Homo sapiens: one gene and its partners. The protein of the gene in region 3 purifies or fractionates together with the protein of the main gene of each other region. This does not show direct contact. Each region holds a gene or a part of one and is shown on either strand. Other genes may lie near its edges. The genes, in order: HMGA2, MACROH2A2, MAP2K5, SCRT1 and LSM14A.

Evidence for each region.
Region 1: the proteins of MAP2K5 (region 3) and HMGA2 purify together in Homo sapiens (affinity purification with mass spectrometry; one large-scale study listed by BioGRID and IntAct). This does not show direct contact.
Region 2: the proteins of MAP2K5 (region 3) and MACROH2A2 purify together in Homo sapiens (affinity purification with mass spectrometry; one large-scale study listed by BioGRID and IntAct). This does not show direct contact.
Region 4: the proteins of MAP2K5 (region 3) and SCRT1 purify together in Homo sapiens (affinity purification with mass spectrometry, with the first as the bait; one large-scale study listed by BioGRID). This does not show direct contact.
Region 5: the proteins of MAP2K5 (region 3) and LSM14A purify together in Homo sapiens (affinity purification with mass spectrometry; one large-scale study listed by BioGRID and IntAct). This does not show direct contact.

Annotation. Positions count from the first base shown.
Region 1 is NC_000012.12:65,830,975-65,834,492, reverse strand, and holds part of HMGA2 (high mobility group protein HMGI-C), read right to left. Parts: intron 1-3,518.
Region 2 is NC_000010.11:70,069,828-70,073,345, reverse strand, and holds part of MACROH2A2 (core histone macro-H2A.2), read right to left. Parts: intron 1-3,518. UniProt on the Homo sapiens protein: Variant histone H2A which replaces conventional H2A in a subset of nucleosomes where it represses transcription. Nucleosomes wrap and compact DNA into chromatin, limiting DNA accessibility to the cellular machineries which require DNA as a template.
Region 3 is NC_000015.10:67,804,703-67,807,632, reverse strand, and holds the end of MAP2K5 (dual specificity mitogen-activated protein kinase kinase 5), read right to left. Parts: intron 988-2,930; coding exon 883-987; 3' UTR 519-882; downstream 1-518. UniProt on the Homo sapiens protein: Acts as a scaffold for the formation of a ternary MAP3K2/MAP3K3-MAP3K5-MAPK7 signaling complex.
Region 4 is NC_000008.11:144,333,674-144,337,777, forward strand, and holds the start of SCRT1 (transcriptional repressor scratch 1), read right to left. Parts: upstream 2,810-4,104; 5' UTR 2,497-2,809; coding exon 2,382-2,496; intron 1,519-2,381; exon of another isoform or gene 1,314-1,518; intron 444-1,313; coding exon 1-443. UniProt on the Homo sapiens protein: Transcriptional repressor that binds E-box motif CAGGTG. Can modulate the action of basic helix-loop-helix (bHLH) transcription factors, critical for neuronal differentiation.
Region 5 is NC_000019.10:34,175,497-34,179,014, reverse strand, and holds part of LSM14A (protein LSM14 homolog A), read right to left. Parts: intron 1-3,518. UniProt on the Homo sapiens protein: Essential for formation of P-bodies, cytoplasmic structures that provide storage sites for translationally inactive mRNAs and protect them from degradation. Acts as a repressor of mRNA translation. May play a role in mitotic spindle assembly.

The DNA of each region.
Region 1 (3,518 bases), on a different chromosome or scaffold from region 3:
AAAGTGTTTATATGTGTGTCTTATTTCCCTCTTATCATCAGAATTCTAGAGTTCAGTAAAACTAGAGATAATTTCACCTAGCCCTCTCATTTAGCAAAGAAGAAAACTTCTGGATGTGTTACAATTCCCAAAGACATAGCCCCATGATATTATTTGGGAACCAGAAGTCTTGTGGGTATCAGTCGCAGAAGGCATACATTTCCAATCCCTTTATAACCTTTGGAGTGGCCCTTCAAAGGTTTCCCAAAGCGTAATTTCCAACCTGCATTTCAGGTTACTGGAGATAACAGAAATCTACCTTGTAACAAATATTTTACAGAACATTCAGCACATGGTAGTGGAAAGAGTATAAGCTTTAGAATTAAAGTGAATTCAAACCCAGGTGCTACCATTTACCAGAGTTGAATATCAGATATGTCCTGTTTACATCTTTGAATCACAGTTTTCTCATTTGTGGAATGAAGACCACAATGCCTAAATCAGAGGATTAAAGGAGCTAACATATATATAAAGTGCCTGACAAAAGCTATGGCATTTAGCACTTAGTCAAATGTAATTTCTTTTCCCTCCCCTTATTTTAAAATGCTACCCACAAATATAATACTTACCAATTTTCTTAGTTTCCAAAGTGACTTTCCAAGCATTATCTTACTTCAGTAGGGCAGGGCAGGTGTTACTTCCCGTTTTACAAATGGGAGATTAAGCAACCTGCCCATGTTCACAGGTAGTAGAACTGAGACCCAATCTGATTTCAATGCAGTGAAGTGTCTGTTCTTTGGAGAGCTATTCCCATATAAAATAAAACTGCCATTCAAAAATTTAAAAAATAAAAGATAACCTTCTAGGGTGAAAATCAAATTAGTTAAAAGTAATGTATTTCCAAGTTTCCTATAAACACATGGACAAGAGCAGAGGTTGGAAACTAAGAATAATTCAATTCTGACTTCAGGGTCAGGTTTAGGTGGCTATTAATTTTTTGCTATTACAAGTTCTCTCATCATTTTTTTTATGTACTGTGATATAGCCAGAAATCCCCCACTGCAAATCCATCAGTGCATCTGTACCAAAAAAAAAAAAAACTAGAAAAATATTTGGGTGTGATGGTGCCCTGTCTTGTTTGCATGTATCTTGATTTGCATGAAGCCCACTATCCAAAGCCTAGAAAGCACATTTTATTTCCTTCAGTTGCTATTTTTAAAAATATAAACAGTATAAATCAATGTACACTGATATCAAAATCAACTCTACGAATCAATCCCACTAAGTACTGAGGAAATTCTCATTTTACCTTTTTGATAATCCAGTTCTGTAAGTTTCCTAATTTTACATGCAACACTTTTAGCCTTGAAGAGACATTACAATTTGCTATCACAATATATTTTCCAATAGAAAATATAAGTAATTTCCATCACCCATTGTAGTTCCTGCCTATTACCCAAGTTAGCCTTTACTGTCAACTCTGGTGTCCTTATTTTGCACATGCTTATCTTCATGTATACAAACACTAAATTAAAACCAAAGCCAAATGACAGGCAAAGTTATCATTTTCAAAGTTTAAGATTCTTCTCCTCCAAATCTTCTCTCTACTTCTTTGTAATCATAAAAATCAATAGCAATGATACAAGAGATCATTGCTATTGATCACAGGAGTTACCTTCTGAGCAAACATGATCCTAGACAAAAGAGAATGCCTGCACTACTCTTCCCTAATTTAAATAGAATATGCCATTCAAAATTGCTCAGTGTATTAAAACAATATGAAATAATGCAATGCCCTAACAAATAACAGTTCTCTATTTCCCCTTTTCTCTTGGTTGGCAGAACAAAGATTCATAACTAAAACCTTCAGAATCAGTGAAATTAATTCAGTTTCCACTTTGTGCCTTCTGCTCTGTAAACTGCAGAAAGTCAACTAACAAGACAAGACATGTTTGAATGATTTAACTGACATAAAATCCTCTTCAGCACCCATCTATTCTCAAGAAAGAACTGAAATGCAATAGAATACCAATCTGGTATATTCTATCTCCTTAGCAAAATGATCTGTTGAGAACTTGAGATAAAAATGAGCCAGGAATGTAGGTCAGCCAGAGAAATGAGGAGACTTCAAGTTCAGAAGAGTTCAGAAGGATGAGAGCTTCCAGAGAAGTAGAACTATAGGTCCCTTGAAATAAAATTACTTCATAAGATAATTCAAATGTATTTCAATCTCCCATATTTGGATCATAATCTGTGATGATTAAAAGCATTACCAGATAGAATGTGCTGGTGCATTAAGTAAGGCTTTGTCTTCCCTGGCAAAGTGAAAGAAAAAAATTAGTCAATTGTTTAGGTAAGTCAGCCTAAATATCAAGATAATGGAACAACAGTTGGACTTTACTTAATTTCACCTGCTGAATTCATTTGTATCCTCAGATAGGGCCCTGAATCCGCCTGAATTCATTTGTATCCTCAGATAGGGCCCTGAATCCCACAATAAAACTTACCTGCCCATTGAAACACAGAGGAATTAAACTAAATCATAGTAGTTTAATTTAGAAACCATAGGCCAGAATTATATGATAACTTCCAAAGTTACCTTTCCTTAACTCACCAATAATAATGTCTTTGGTTTCTCCTTTTAATTAGGCCTACTATATTCTGAAGAAAATTCTGTCCTCACTCAGCATTTATGCTGAATGATTTTTCTGAAATGGTGACTAAAACTATCTTCTCTCTTTTTAAAATATCTGTGATTGGTGTGGGTAATGATTATGAAAAGCAAACCACATTTCGAGAAATGCAAATGATTAGAAGGAGCATGAAGTAGTCTTTACAGTATCTAATTAATTCAGGCCTTCTTTTTATAGCAAATCAAACATAGAGATTAAACATTTACTCTGAACACATTATTTTAACTATAACTACTTTATCTAGATATTTTCATTCTGCACTTTGCTTCCTAGATCTGTCCATTACACCTAAAGTCAAAAGGGTGGTGAACAAATATATGACATGATGAAGTAGGGTTATCTCACACCTGAGATCTTTTTTTTTTATTTTCATTTTCCTTCCAATAAAATTTAATTCAACCTCAGAAAAAAACTTCCTAAAATATGTGAATGAGAATTGGCTTAAAACTTAAAGGTGAATTTGACCTGAGACCTTCAACACTGAAGAATTAGTGACAACCCCTCCAGTATTCTGTCATGATTAAAAAAGTACAACAAAACCCTAAACTAAAGGAGATTATAACTTCTTTCTCTCTAACCATCTGGGAACTGTAAAAATGCAAAGATTTCCATCCACCACAACCAGGAAAGCAAAGCAAAGCAAAACAAAACAAAAAAGGAAGTTAAGACATAACTGGTCATAGGTGTACCTCAGACTAAAAAATAAATAAAAGGGTAAAGATATGCTCACACAGACGTATACACACATGGACAAATGAATTATTCAGGAAAACTTTAACTTCTGATTTCTTTTATTCAGGTAACTATATGAAACTGATTCAGGGACAAATTTTGAGCACTCAGATT
Region 2 (3,518 bases), on a different chromosome or scaffold from region 3:
TGGCTGCTCACTCTCATAAATCCACTTGTAGGGGTTTTCTCTTTGAGGAAGCAAGCAACTATGTGTTAGGTAAATGTATGGAGGGCCTGCTGTTAGTCAGCCCTGTCGCAGGAAAGAGGGGAAACAGACAGCATTGCTAAGTGGTCCCTGTCCTCACATAGCACGTGTTTGCTAGCTGGGTTGTGGTGCTCTAAATGGAGGTGGCTCTTGCTATAGTGGAAGGAGCCCAGGACTGCGGAACAGAAAGTCCTGGGCATAGCGCCGCTTCTACATAACTACAGTCATGCACCCCACAATGACCGCATATGACGGTGGTCCTGTATGATCATAATGGAGCTGAAAAATTCCTATGCCCTAGTGACATCTTTTTGTTGTTGTTGTTGTTGTTTGGGAAGGAGTCTTGCTCTGTCCCCTAGGCTGGAGTGCAGTGGTGCAATCTCGGCTCATTGCAACTTCTGCCTCTGGGGTTCAAACGATTCTCCTGCCTCAGCCTCCCAAGTAGCTGGGACTATCGGTGTGCACCACCATGCCTGGCTAATTTTTGTATTTTTAGTAGAGACGAGGTTTCACCATGTTGGCCAGGGTGGTCTCAAACTCCTGACCTCAAGTGATCCATCTTCCTCAGCCTCCCAAAGTGGTGGGATTACAGGTGTGAGCCACCACACCTGGCCAACCTAGTGACATCCTAACGGTGTAGCACAATGCCTTACTCATGTGTTTGTGGTGATGCTGATGTAAACAAACCTACTGTGCTGCCAGTCATATAAAAGTCTAGCACATATAATTATGTATAGTATATAATACTTGATAACAAATGACGATGTTACTGGTACTCCTTCTACTTATTAAAAACAAAGTAAACTGTAAACCAGCCTTAAATGGATCCTTCAGGAGGTATTCCAGAAGGAGGCATTATTATTACAGGAGATGACAGCTCCGTGCGTGTTATTGTCCCTAAAGACTTTCCAGTGGACAAGATGTGAAGGTGGAAGACAGTGTTATTGATGACCCTGACTCTGTGTAGGCCTAGGCTAATGTGTATGTGTCTTATTTTTTTTAACAGAAGTTTAAAAAGTTAAAAAAAATTTTAATAGAAAAATGCTTATAAACTTAAAGTATAATAATAATAAAATAAAAAAAGAAAAATGCTTATAGAGTAAGGCTATAAAGAAGGAAAATATGTGTAGTAGCTGTGCAATGTATTTGTGTTTTAAGCTAAGTGTTATTACAAAAGAGTCAAAAAGTTTAAAAAGGTTAAAAAGTTTATAAAGTAAAAAAAATTACAGTAAGCTAAGGTTAATTTATTATTGGATAATTTATTGGAAAATTTATTATTGGGTAAGGTTAATTTATTATTAAGGAAAATATTCTCTTTTAAATGTAGTGTAGCTAACATGTACGGTATAAAGTCTACAGTAGTGTACAATAATGTCCCGGGCCTTCACATTCACTCACCACTCACTCACTCACCCAGAGTACTTCTAGTCCTGCAAGCTCTATTCACGGCAAGTGCCCTATACATGTGTACTGCTGTTTACATTTTATACTGTATTTTACTGTCCTTTTCTAAGTTTAGAGACACAAAAACTTACCATCACCATTGCCTGCAGTATTCAGTATGGTAAGATGTTGAGCAGGTTTGTAGCCCAGAAGCAACAGATCATAGGATTATAGCCTAGGTGTACAGGAGGCTGTACCATCTAGGTTTGTGAAGTCCACTCTATGCTGTTTGCACAATGACAAAATCACCTAACGATGCATTTCTCAGAACGTACCCCTTTCGTTAAGTGATGCATGACTGTAGTTATGTGAGCTTCATATGTTATTTATTTGGACCTCAGTGGCCTTCTCTGTAAAACAGGGCAGGTGGCTAACATCCTTACAGTTGTTCTGCTCTTAAACATCCTGATTTTTCTGAAAGGCACTTTTCAATGATTTTGGTAGAGAAGCTTAGGCTCTTTAAGCAGTCGGTTCTAAAGACTTAAGAGCCTACACAGGCTCATAAAGGTGCATTAGTGACTCTCCTAAGCCAATTATGTGCTTTTCTCAGTTAATGGTAAGTGGGATTGGAGGATGATTACTAAGTCTGGTTGTCAAGAAACCACCTGAAAAGCCCATCACAGGGTGGACGTGCTCTGTGAATATGGTGTGTGCTGGCTGGTCTTAATCTCTCCCTACCATGCTTCCACCAGAGAATGCTGCATGAAGTACAAACACCACAAGGGCAGGGACACCCCCTGTGCACACGCGCACACACACACACACACTCATGCACATGCACACGCGCGCCCACACACGCATGCACGTGCACACGCATACATGCACGCGCTCACACACACACACACATGCACATGCACACAGACACACACACACACACACACACTTTCCTCAAAACAGCCAGAGAATGACTAGGTGTGCAGGATAAAGCCATTTAGGGACTTTCCTACTATTAGCTGCCAAGAGAAGTCACAAACTGCCCTAAAAATTGGAACTTAGGACTAGGAGTATAAGAAAAGCAAGTGACTTTAGGGGACGGATGCCTAAAACACTCAGGAAGAGGCCAAGCGTGGTGGCTTACGCCTGTAATCCCTACATTTTGGGAGGCTAAGGTGGGTGGATCACCTGAGGTCAGGAGTTTGAGCCTGGGCAACATGATGAAACCCCGACTCTACTAAAAATACAGAATATTAGCCGGGCGTGGTGGCGGGTGCCTGTAATTCCAGCTACTCTGGAGGCTGAGGCAAAAGAATCACTTGAACCCAGGAGGAGGAGGTTGCAGTGAACCGAGATTGTACCATTGCACTCCTGCTGGGCAACGACAGCGAAACTCCGTCTCAAAAACAAACAAACAAACAAAACTCAACACTCATGAAGATAAAATAGCCAAGTAAGGAAAATCAAAGTAGGAACAAGTAGAGAAACATACCACCTGCACATTGTAAAAAAGTACCTAAATGTAAGAATCATCCTGAACATGGTACTTTATAATAAGTTTTTCCCTCTGTGGCTTCCAGACTTCCCTCTAAGTGAGGGCCTTAGAGGAAATCCCCCTGGGTGGGGGATGCAGCTCCATCTGAAGTCTAAGTGTGAGATGGACTGACTTATGCATGTATTTTAAGCAGGACTGGAGAGTCCTCTATGCCTGCCAAACCCATCTTTTCAGGTCTTGTGCGGAATTTAAGCAGCCAGGCACCTATCTCCCAGGCCCTCCTGGGGACTCAGGGCTGTGAGGTCCCTGGACACGGACAGTAAGAATTAGAGCACATCCAGGAATCCCTAGGGGAAGCAAGGAGGGGCTTATGGAGCTGACATGTTACATCTACCAGAGCCCACCGACGGGAGGAAGTGCTGAGCCTCTGGGGCCACTCCAGAGAAGACCCTGCTTTCTAAAGACCACCTCTCCCCAAAGCCTGTGCTGGATTATGCCTGGAGTTATGATAAATTATAACCCTGAACTTCCTTCTTTCCCGGGCCACCCTTTCCTCCAACTCTATTCCGTCTTGGGAAGTCAGGAGTCA
Region 3 (2,930 bases):
TTGAGATGCTATTCAGACCTTCAAGTGGAATCCTGAGCCCCTTGGAGCCTCAGCTCCTCACCTGCAAAATGGGGGTAGCCAGGCTTACCTGGCATGTGGCTGAGGGGATTTCCTGAGAGGTGAGAGGTGGCAGGTGTGGGGTCAAGGGCAGTGAGGAGCAGGGGTGGGGCTGGGGTGGAGAAGGGCCTCTCAGAACAGCCCACTCCCTCCTCAGCCACGCAGGTCAGGTGGATGTGTCTGGCAGTCCAGTAAGGAGCTCATGGCGGGGGCCTGAGATCCGGGCCTACTCCTTGCCATGGGACCCATCCCAATGCCTCCGTGCTTCTGTTTCTCATCTGACAGTGGAGCTGGGCTGTGGGCCTCAGCACAACTGCGAGGAGCTAGCAGGAGGCTTGCAGGTGCCTGGGCAGGCAGCAGGCACTGTCACACACATCCCTGCTGAAGTGGAGATCCCACCTGCCCCCAGCCCTGGGGGGGGTCACAGACCCCCTGGACCACACAACTCTTATGGCAGAGGCTGTCACAAAGCATTAATACTTTTATTCCCATCAGTGATGCTGACGGGCCTGACCCTTTATAGAGAAAAACATTAGGAAAACAGAAGTGGGCAGGGACCCTGGGAGCCTCCATTCTCAATGCCCCACCCTTTACCTCTCTGCCAGTGTCAGCGCCTTCAAACCAGAAGGTATGGGGATGGCCTGGTGGGGTGGGCCACACATGGGGCTCCCCAGGCAAGGCCACCTGCTGACAGAGGTGAAGGCGAGGGCAGGGAAGCCAGGGCCCAGCAAAGCTCTTCTGGCGCAGGCAGCATACGGAGAAGGGCGACGGGTGGGTTGTTCTCCTTGGTTACTGGTCCTGGGCTTTCAGTGCCCTGCGGCAGCCTCACGGGGGCCCCTGCTGGCTCCGCCTCTCCTCCAGCGCCCGGCACACCCACATGGACACCACGGCGGCATTTCCATCATTGAACTGCACGATGAACGGGTGGCCCTGCGGGGAAGAGGAGGAGGCTGTGACAGGCAGTCCTCGGACTCCCGCGCTCATTGTACTTTCCAGGGCCTGCCCTCAGCCTGGATCTGATCTCTTTCCCCAGTAACCCTGTGAGGTAACGAGGGAGGCTATCAGCTCCATTTCACGGCCTAGATAATTGAGGCCCAGGGACGAGCAGTGACATACTGGTAGTCAGCACCAAGCGTGTGGAGTGCTGGCTGGCACATCTCAGACTCTGCCACCTCTTCCTGAGGCTCGCACTAGCCTGGAAGGTGCTTAAGGGCGAGGGCCTGTCTTCGCTGCACACTCTGCCTGGCCCTTCCTCTGCCCGGCATCACTCGCACGGCCAGTCAGCCGAGGCCTGGCACTGTGTTGCCAGCTTTCCGGTTCAGTTGGTGCCCAGAGACCAAAGAATCATCTCGTCAGAGGCTATGTCAATCCCTTTTAGCTTTCTCCTTTGTCTACAGCTCTCCTATAAAAAGAAGTCACCACCTGCAATTGGAGGGAAGGCAAACATGTCAGGGGAAGTGGGGAGGGGGAGGAATGTGCTGGGCTGTGCACAGGATCTCTGGGTTCCTGGTGAGAAGTTCCATTGGGGGCTGGACTCTGGAGGGGCCGGCCCTGTTGCCCTGTGGCCTGCCTCTGGTTCTAACCCACTTATCACACAGGCAGACCAGATTCTATTTAGCCAGTTCTCTTCTCTGCTGTCCTGAAGCACCAAGATTTACATCCACAATCTTAGGGCCTCCTGGGAATTCCCAGGGAAGGTCAGAAAAAAGCAGGGACAACCCCAGGGTTACCAGGCCACAGTCAGAGGTGAAAGGAAAAGTGAAAAGCCTTCTTTTTCTTCCTCTTCACCAAGTGGCTTCTTGCCCAGGAACTTACACCAAGTGGCTTCCTCTCCTACCCAAAACTGTGCAGCTTGCATGGTGAGACTCGGGGAGCCATAGCGAGGACAGAGAATGGGGGAGATGAGGGCGCCATGTGCCTGCCCCCAGCTCTTCTCCCTCCCTGTCCAGCGGCCGCTTCCTCGCTCCCCCCAGCTCTCTCCTCCCTCCAGCTTCCTCAGCCCCTCTTGGGCCTGTCCTCCACCTGCACAGGCTGGGCTTTCAGGGTTGCTTTCCCAGCACACCCCAGCCTTGACTGCAGCCCTAGAGAGGCTGCTTAAAGAGCCGCATGGCCTCGCCACGAGCTCATCACAAAGCCAGGAGGGATGTGGACCCTGGCTGTCCCAACCTCAGCGCCTGCAGGGGCTGTCAAGGACCAGGCCTGGGTAGAGCAGGGGACGGCATGGCCCCTCTGGACCACAGGTCAGAACTGTGGGGGACAGGAGAATGCTCAGGCCGCCTCATCCTAGGCTGATGCAGTGCCCGCCCCCAACCTTCTCATTCGAGGTTGGGAAACCTGCCCTGGGGACACCCTGCGTGGGTCTATCTCAGAGGCACACAGAGCACTGTCAGAGCTGCGAGGAGGAGGAGGAAACTCGGCTTCGAAGATGCCAAGGCACTCAACCCCGGGCAGGGACCCGCTGAGACTGGGGTGGAGCTAGGCCTGGAGCCCAGCTGGGTACTTCCCATAATCTGCTCATAGCACTCTGGGAGGCTCCTGACACACCTGCAGGACCCCTAAGGGCACAGGGGCCATGGAGGCCAGGCTGGGTGTGGCCCTGTGGATGGCAGAGGTTTGGTCTGGGGCCTGAGCAGGAGAGGCCCAGGAAGGACTGGATTTTGGCTTCCAAGTGTTCTCCTCCCCATATATATGCCCACCCCACGGCTGCTTTCCCAAATCGCTGCCTAGACAGAGGAAATCCTTCCCAAAGTCCAAGCGTGCACACTTCCTCTCAGGAGGCTCAGGAGGGGCGACCTCGTGCCCTTCTAAAGAACAAAGGGAGAAGCTGTGCTCACGAGTGACGGGCCCCTCCCCCCACGCCCGGGGTAACACAG
Region 4 (4,104 bases), on a different chromosome or scaffold from region 3:
ACCTGCGGCCCCTGGCCCCGCGCGCGCCTCGGTGCCTGCCCCCGCGCGCGTGCCGCCCCGGCCCCCCGGCCCGGATCCCAAGCTGCGCCCGCCCGCCCCGCCCCCGCCTCCGGCGTCGCCGTCGGGGGCCGCCGCCGAGGCTGTGGAGGGAGCGGCGGCAGCGCCGGCATTGGAAGCCTTACGCCGCGAGCGCCCGTCGGTGATGAAGAAGGCGTCCGCCGCGTAGCCCTCGCTGACGGCCGCGTCGCCGTTGATGTAGCCGCCCGCAGCGGTGGCCAGCTCCGGGCGCGGGGTGGGCGGCGGCGCAGACCCTGCAGCCGCCGGACCCAGCTCTCCACGCACAGCTGCTGCGTACATGGGCTCCGGCGACGGCCCTTTGAGCAGCGCAGCCTCGGCGTCGCCATCGTAGACGGACGAGGGCCCCACGTAGTCGCTGAGGTACCCTGCGGGCGGAGGCGGACGGACAGCGGGAAGGGAATGGGGCGGCGGCAGGACACACACGGGGGATGGGGGGGCGGGAGACAGCAGACGCGGACCGGGAGACCCGGGTCCGGGAGAGAGGCGAACAGGGAGGAGGACAAAGGAGAGGAGGCCGAGGGACCGCCGGGCAGGGAGGATGGAGACAGCAGGGAGGGGAAGAGAGGGGAGGAGAGGATGAGACAGGGCCGGGCCACGCTCCGCCCCCGCCGCCCCACCCTCGCAGAGAGGAGGAGAGAGGCGCGTCTTCGGGCGCGGCTGCCCCCCTTCCGCGGAGCCTCAAGGTCAGGGGGGAGGGGCGGCGCTTCCCTCTCCCTCCTCCCCCACCCACCCTCCCCTCCCCCTCGGGTTCTCCCCACTTCAGCAGTTTTCCCTGATTATGCAACACACTGCAGACCCGCGGCGCACAAAGCCAGGACTGCCGGCCCAGGGACCCCGTCTGTCCCACCTCTCCGGGGTCCTGGCCGGCTCTCCCTCTGGCCTGCAGAACGTGCGCTCCATTTTGATGTTGACCCCCTCTGGCCTTCTGGTTCCTCCAACAAGCCCTGAAGACGTCTCCCTCCCCCAGTTCCCTCCGGCCTCACCAGCACCTCCCTCAGCTCTCCGGCCACCCACTGGACTTGACCCTGCCCTCCCTGCTCCTCCATGCACTCTGCTTCTCCTCCGAACTCCCTCTCACCATCCTGCACCCTTGGGTCCTACCCTGTTCAACATTGCCCTCTCCTGCTCACACCCTAACCCCTTTCAGGGCCTTCCCAAGCCCCTGAACTGTGCAGAGAGGGCCAGGGCGTCCACTTTCACAGGGACGAGCTGCAGGAGGGCAGCATCACTTATACCGGTAGCTGCAGTTGCTCCCCAGGCACAAGATGGATCTCATAACCTCAAAGTCACAAATGCACGCCCCTCGCGACGCTCTGCCTCCTTCAGGGCTACACCCAGTCTCCCAGCATGATCAGCCCTTGTGTGCCCTCACAGGGTGGGCTGCACACTGATGTGCCGAACTCACCACCTCCTCACTCACGCAGGGTCACACATGCAGTCACCCCGGACACACTCTCAAGTCACATGGTGCACAGCGGCCTCAGAGTCACATGGTCCCATGTAGTGGCACACAGGCAAGCACACACACACACAGGGTCACACACAAGCGCACACGGTCACATGGCCACACACAGTCACATGGACCCACACAGGCTCACACTCCTGCAGGTCACACTTGCTCTGCCACCCCATGCTGCTGGCACTCCTGTCCCCCTCTCCTGCATGCTGACAGTTGTCCTTGAACTTGGGCACCCTTACACAAAGAGCCTCCCCCTGCCTCCCACACCTTGGGCGTCCCTTGCTCACAGCCTCCTCCCTGCTTCCTCTCCCTGACCCAGGCTTCAGGGAAGAGACTGCTGCTGCCTCTGCTGGCCCTCTGCTCTGACAGGTGGGCGGCCCTGTTGGACCCCCTGCCTACTCCCTGGAGCTCCCTGCATTCCCCAGCTAACCCTAGCAGGTGTCCTGGTGCAGTCAAGGAAGAGGAGAGGGTGGCGAGGCGGCCCTGGTCTCTTGAGTGTAGGTCTGTGTGTGCCGGCATGGCTGGGTCCCGTCATGGCAGCGCCCATGCGGCTGTGTCTGTCCCAGCATGGGTCAGGATGTGGGTCCATGTGTGCGTTTGGGTACCTCAGTTCCTGATCCTCTTCCCCACCCTCTGTCCAACGTCGACACTCTCCCTGCCCAGCCTTGGCCTCTGTGTTCCCCTTCCTCCCCTCTACCGTCCAGGCTCCAGCCACAGACTCTTGCCGTTTCTGGTTCCCTTCAGTCTGTTTCCCCGGGCCCTGCCCTCCGCCCCCACACTCTGGCCCTCCACCGCTTCCAGCAAAGCCCCAGGCCCCGCGCCCTGGTCTCAGACCAGCGCTCACCTTTATCGTGCAGTGGCGCGCCGAGGTCGCTGCGGGCGCGTCCGTAGGCGCTCTCCAGGTCGGCCGAAGAGAACGCGTCAAGTTTGACCTTCTTGACCAGGAAGGACCTGGGCATGATTCCTGCGGGGCTCCGGCGCTGTGGGCCTGCGGAGCCGGGGCTTGGGGGGGCTGCGGCGGCAGGGCCCCGTCACCATCCGAGGAGCGGCGGAGGCAGCGCGGGTCCCCACTCTGGCCTTTGGATGCTGCCGCGCGAGTGGTGTCCTCTCTCCTTGCTGCCCTGCGTCTCCTCCGTTGCCCCTCCGGATCCCTCTTCTTCCTCCTTCCTTCAATCCTTCCTTCCTTCCTTCAATCCTTCCTTCCTTCTCTCCTCTTCTCTCCTCTCCTCTTCCTTCCTTCCCTCCTCTGGTCCCGGCTTCCCAGCCCGCAGTGCCGCCCCTGGACAGGCGGGGGAGGAGGCTGGGGGGGCGGAGAGGGGGGGAGCGGCTCCGTCCCGGGCCTGGAGGCTGCGAGTGGGTGCAGGGCTGGCCCGGCTCGGTGGCCCCCTTCCCCTCCCCCCCCCCGCCGCCGCGGCGGAGCCTCAGTCAGCGGCCCCCCATGCCCCCGGGGGCGGCGGCGCCGGGCCCGGAGAACGCGGTGGCAGCGGCAGCGCCGGCAGCTTCAGCACCGCGGCCAGCGCCGGCCTGGGCAGCACCGCGGCCAGCGCCCGGGCGCGCTCAACCGGCGCGGGCGGAGAGGGGCGGTCCGCGGGGGTTTGGCCGCCGGGCAGGGGTCCTCGGCGGGGGTCTCTGGGAGGCTTGCTTTATTGTTCTGCAGCCGGAGCGAGCGGCAGTGGCGACGGCGGCGGCGGCGGCGGCGGCGGCGGCGGGCGGGGGGCGGGGGTCCTGGGGGGAGGGGTGCGCAGGGAGGGCGGGCCGAGGGAGGGAGGGAGGGAGGGACAGGGGCTCCGGGGGCGGGGCTCGGCGCTCGGACTGCTCCTGGGCCCGGCCTCCAGAGCCCGCAGCCGCCTCTGCCTGCGGCCCGGCCCAGCCTCTGGCTTTTAAAGCCCAGGAGCTGGGGGAGGGGGAGGGAGGTGGGGGAGAGGCCGGCGGAAATGGCTGCGCTGGGCCGAGCCCCGGCCTGGGTCTCCTGGGAGGGGTCCCGGGGATGCCTCAGCCTGCGCGAGTGGGGAATTCCCCCGCGCGGCTCGGGGAACCGCGGCCCGGCAGCCAGCAGCATTGTCGGGCGTGTGGGGAGAAATGGAGCCAGGCCTGGGACCCAAGCGCCCCGGACTCGGGGTCTTGTGGGGAGGAACGTAGGGAGGACCCCAGTCCCGCCTGCCTCGCTCGGGGCCTGGGGCGCGGGATCTGCGGGGGCGGGCGGGGGAGGCGGGAGCCGAAGGAGCAAGTGCTGAGGCAGCGAAAGCGCAGCGCGCGCCCTGTGCCGCAGTGGCTCCCGCCGCTCGGTCACCCCGGCTGACCCCGTGCACGCTGGAGGGGCCTACCCGCCCCCGCCTCTCTCCCCCCGGGCGGGTGTGCGGCGCAGCGGCGTCGCTGCGAGCCGGGTGTGGAGCTGGAGAGGGGCTGCCACGACCCTGCTCCAGAAATTCTGCTGCTTTGGGGGTTTTCCGCCCTTCCGCGCGGCTGCAGCTCCCCACGGCAGCCCCGCAACCAGGCGGATAACCCTTTCCTCGGCCGCCCGCCCAGCGTTTGCAGCCCCCATGACGTCAGGCTCAGCGGCCAATGGC
Region 5 (3,518 bases), on a different chromosome or scaffold from region 3:
ACTCACTTATAGACGTAGGTGCAAACACAACTGGAACTATTCCATAAAATATTCATACATGTCACCACTGTGTAATTTCTTCCTACACCCTGAATGGAGGCTTCCTTTAAACTTTAAATGAAAATTATAATTGAGCTTGAGTCACAAAGAGTTTACCTCCCCAATAATGTTAATTATGTCACTAGATTTCATCCTCTTGCATCCCTACTCACTGAAATTCTTCAAGATTTCTTAATGTGAGGCAGGATAATTTAATTTTATAGGGAAATGCAATTGTGAACATGGAAAAGCATTATTTGGAGGTATACCCAAGATACTTCTACAAGAACAATAAGCTAAAATGCTAAATCATTTCCATTTACTCACTAACTAAACAACCTTTCATACCAGGAGCTCAGAGTCTGGAGGTGAAGGGGAAGGTGAAGACAGACAATAAACACATATGCAAATAAGCAAAGAAGATTAAGTGTAAGTCATGATCAGTGCTGAGAAGAAAATAAATTCAGAGCTGTGACACAGACTACAAACTGCAACAAACTGCAGAAACAAACTGCAACACAGATCATCTATAAACATACATAGCAGATTGACATCAAAGCCTTTCTAGGTTGCCTTTATGACTTCTTGACATATGCTTAGGTTCCGAGGATCAAAGCCCCTCAAACTTACCTGTTTCACTTTCTAGAACTAAAGCTAGTCTGTGACATCTCTAGCAGAAAATAAGGCACATCGACCATTTCACAGCACCTCTGCAATTAGGCTTTTGATTATGTGGTGTGATAACTTATCCACACTGAAACATTTTCAAAAGAGAAAACAGATTATTATTATTATTTTGTGTTTTTTTTTTTTTTGAGACAGAGTCTCGCTCTGTTGCCCAGGCTAGAGTACAGTGGTGTGATCTTGGCTCACTCTAACCTCCGCCTTTCAGGTTCAAGCAATTCTCCTGCCTCAGCCTCTCAAGTAGCTGGGATTACAGACATGCACCAGCACGCCCAGATAATTTTTGTATTTTTAGTAGAGACGGGGTTTCGCCATGTTGGCCAGACTGGTCTCGAGCTTCTGACTTCAGGTGATTCGCCTGCCTCAGCTTCCTGAAGTGCTGGGATTACAGGCTATCATTGTTATTTTTTAAGACAAGGTCTTGTTCTATGTTTCAGGCTGGAGTGCAGTGGCATGATCACAGCTCCTCTTGGGCTCAAGCAATCCCCCTGCCTCAGCCTCCCAAGTGGCTGGGACGACAGACATGCATGCCACCATGCTTGGCTAATGCACTTTTTAAAATTTTTTGTAGAAATGGAGTCTCCCTGTATTGCCGAGGCTGGTTTTGAACTCCTGGGCTCAAGCAATACCCCGGCCTTGACCTTTTGGAAATGTTGGGATTACAGGCCTGAGTCACCCTGCCCAGCCGGGATGTTTTTAATAATTATGCCAGAGCAGGCACAAACAAGGACTTTCCACCAGGGCAAACTAGGCCATATGGTTACCCTAATTATATACCACATCAAATGTAAATAGCCAAAAATTTCAAGAGTAGTTTATAGTTCCAGATATATTTAAATTATAATATCCAAGCCCTAAATTATAATATGGACAATATAAACCAAGTGAATCCCTTACTAAATATAAAGCTCTGAATATCTCACATTGTACACAAAATCAATTTCAGATGCATTATAAACGTCAATGTGAAAAAGCAAAGCACAAAAAGGTTTAAAGATAATCAAAGTATCTCTATGATGTTTTAAAAAAAGAAACACTAGCCATAAAAAACTGATGAACATGTTTACATTAAAATGAAGAACTTCTGTTAATTTAAAGAAACTACTAAATGGAAAAAATGTTTGCAATATATACATCCAACAATGGAGATATATTCAGAATACAGAACTCTAGAAAAAGACGTGTTTCGATTTAAAAAAGGAAAAGATTTCAAAGGCATTTTATGAAAAATGAAATCCAAACACCCAGATATGAAAAGCTGGTCAGCCCCATTTAGTAATGAGGGAAATGATTAAAACTAAATACAACTACATACCCACCAGGATTGGCTAGAATTGAAATATATGATACCACGTACGGTTGTTGGTAAGGGATATGAAACAAGAACTCTTACATACTAATAAATGAAGTAAAAACCACTAAACAACTACTTTGAAAAACTACCTGGCATTACCTGATAAAGACCAACATTCCCCATGTTCTTGCAATTCAAATTCTAAGTATATAATCTCAAGAAAACGAAATAAACATGCACCAGTGCACTTAAACAGAAATGTTCATAAAAGCATTGTTTATAATAGCCCCAAACTGCAAACAATCTAAATGCAATATCCAAAACAATGGCAGAAGGAATAAACTTGTGTTATATTCATGATGGAATATTATGAAACAATAAAAGCTAAAAATAAAATATATACAACACAATCCTATTTACATAAAGTTAAAAATGGGCAAAATTAAACTCTATTATTTAGAGATGTAAACTTATATGGTAAAACTATAAATGTCAGAAGAACATTTATATCTAGCTTAAATTAAGATGGTGATAGTTGTGATGGGAAAATATAGGTGGTGGGAGGCTTCTGGGATGCTGGCAATGTCTGTCTTGCCCTGGGTGGTGGTTACAAAGATGTTTGTTTAAAAATATTTCATTTTTATCTTATGTATCTTTTCAGCCTGTGTAGTTAGGTTTCCCAATAACACTCTCCCTGAGAAATTAAAAAAAAAAAAGTTCAAAAGAGAATGCTAAGACTGTTACTCAAAGAGATTAACTCTTAATCCATAGTTTAAAAACAGTAACAGGGATCTCTACATCCAAATACACACTGTATTATAAATTCCATGAATAAACTTTTGGCTTCAGGCCGGGTGCAGTGCCTCACACCTGTAATCCCAGCACTTTGGGAGGCCAAGGTGGGTGGATCATCTGAGGTCAGGAGTTTGAGACCAGCCTGGCCAACATGGTGAAACCCCGTCTCTACTCAAAATACAAAAATTAGCCAGCTGTGTTGGGCGCCTGTAGTCCCAGCTACTCGGAAGGCTGTGGCAGAACTGCTTGAACCCGGGAGGTGGAGGCTGCAGCGAGCCAAGATCGCACCACTGCACTCCAGCCTGGGCAAGAGCAAGACTCTGTCTCAAAACAACAACAAAAAAAAACGAAAACAAAACAAAACAAACACTTTTGGCTTTAATCTTTTAGACTACCATTCTTCGTTCAAATTTTGAAATGGAAGGTGAAATTTTCTGATATCGAATTACTCAACAAGTCATGTAAATTTTAAAATTTTAAGATTGAACTCCTTGCTTCTAATCTTGAAATCTGAAATGTGTCCAGTATTGACTAGACAGTTATAATGTAGTTTTCGATTAGATAATATCATGTAGACTAATATATAAAGGTTTGATAATGTCAGTTTTTGCGAACATAATCAAATTCCCCAAACTGGTTACACATTTAACTCATGTTGCTTAAGAAAAAGCAGCCGGGTGCGGTGGCTCATGCCTGTAATCCCGGC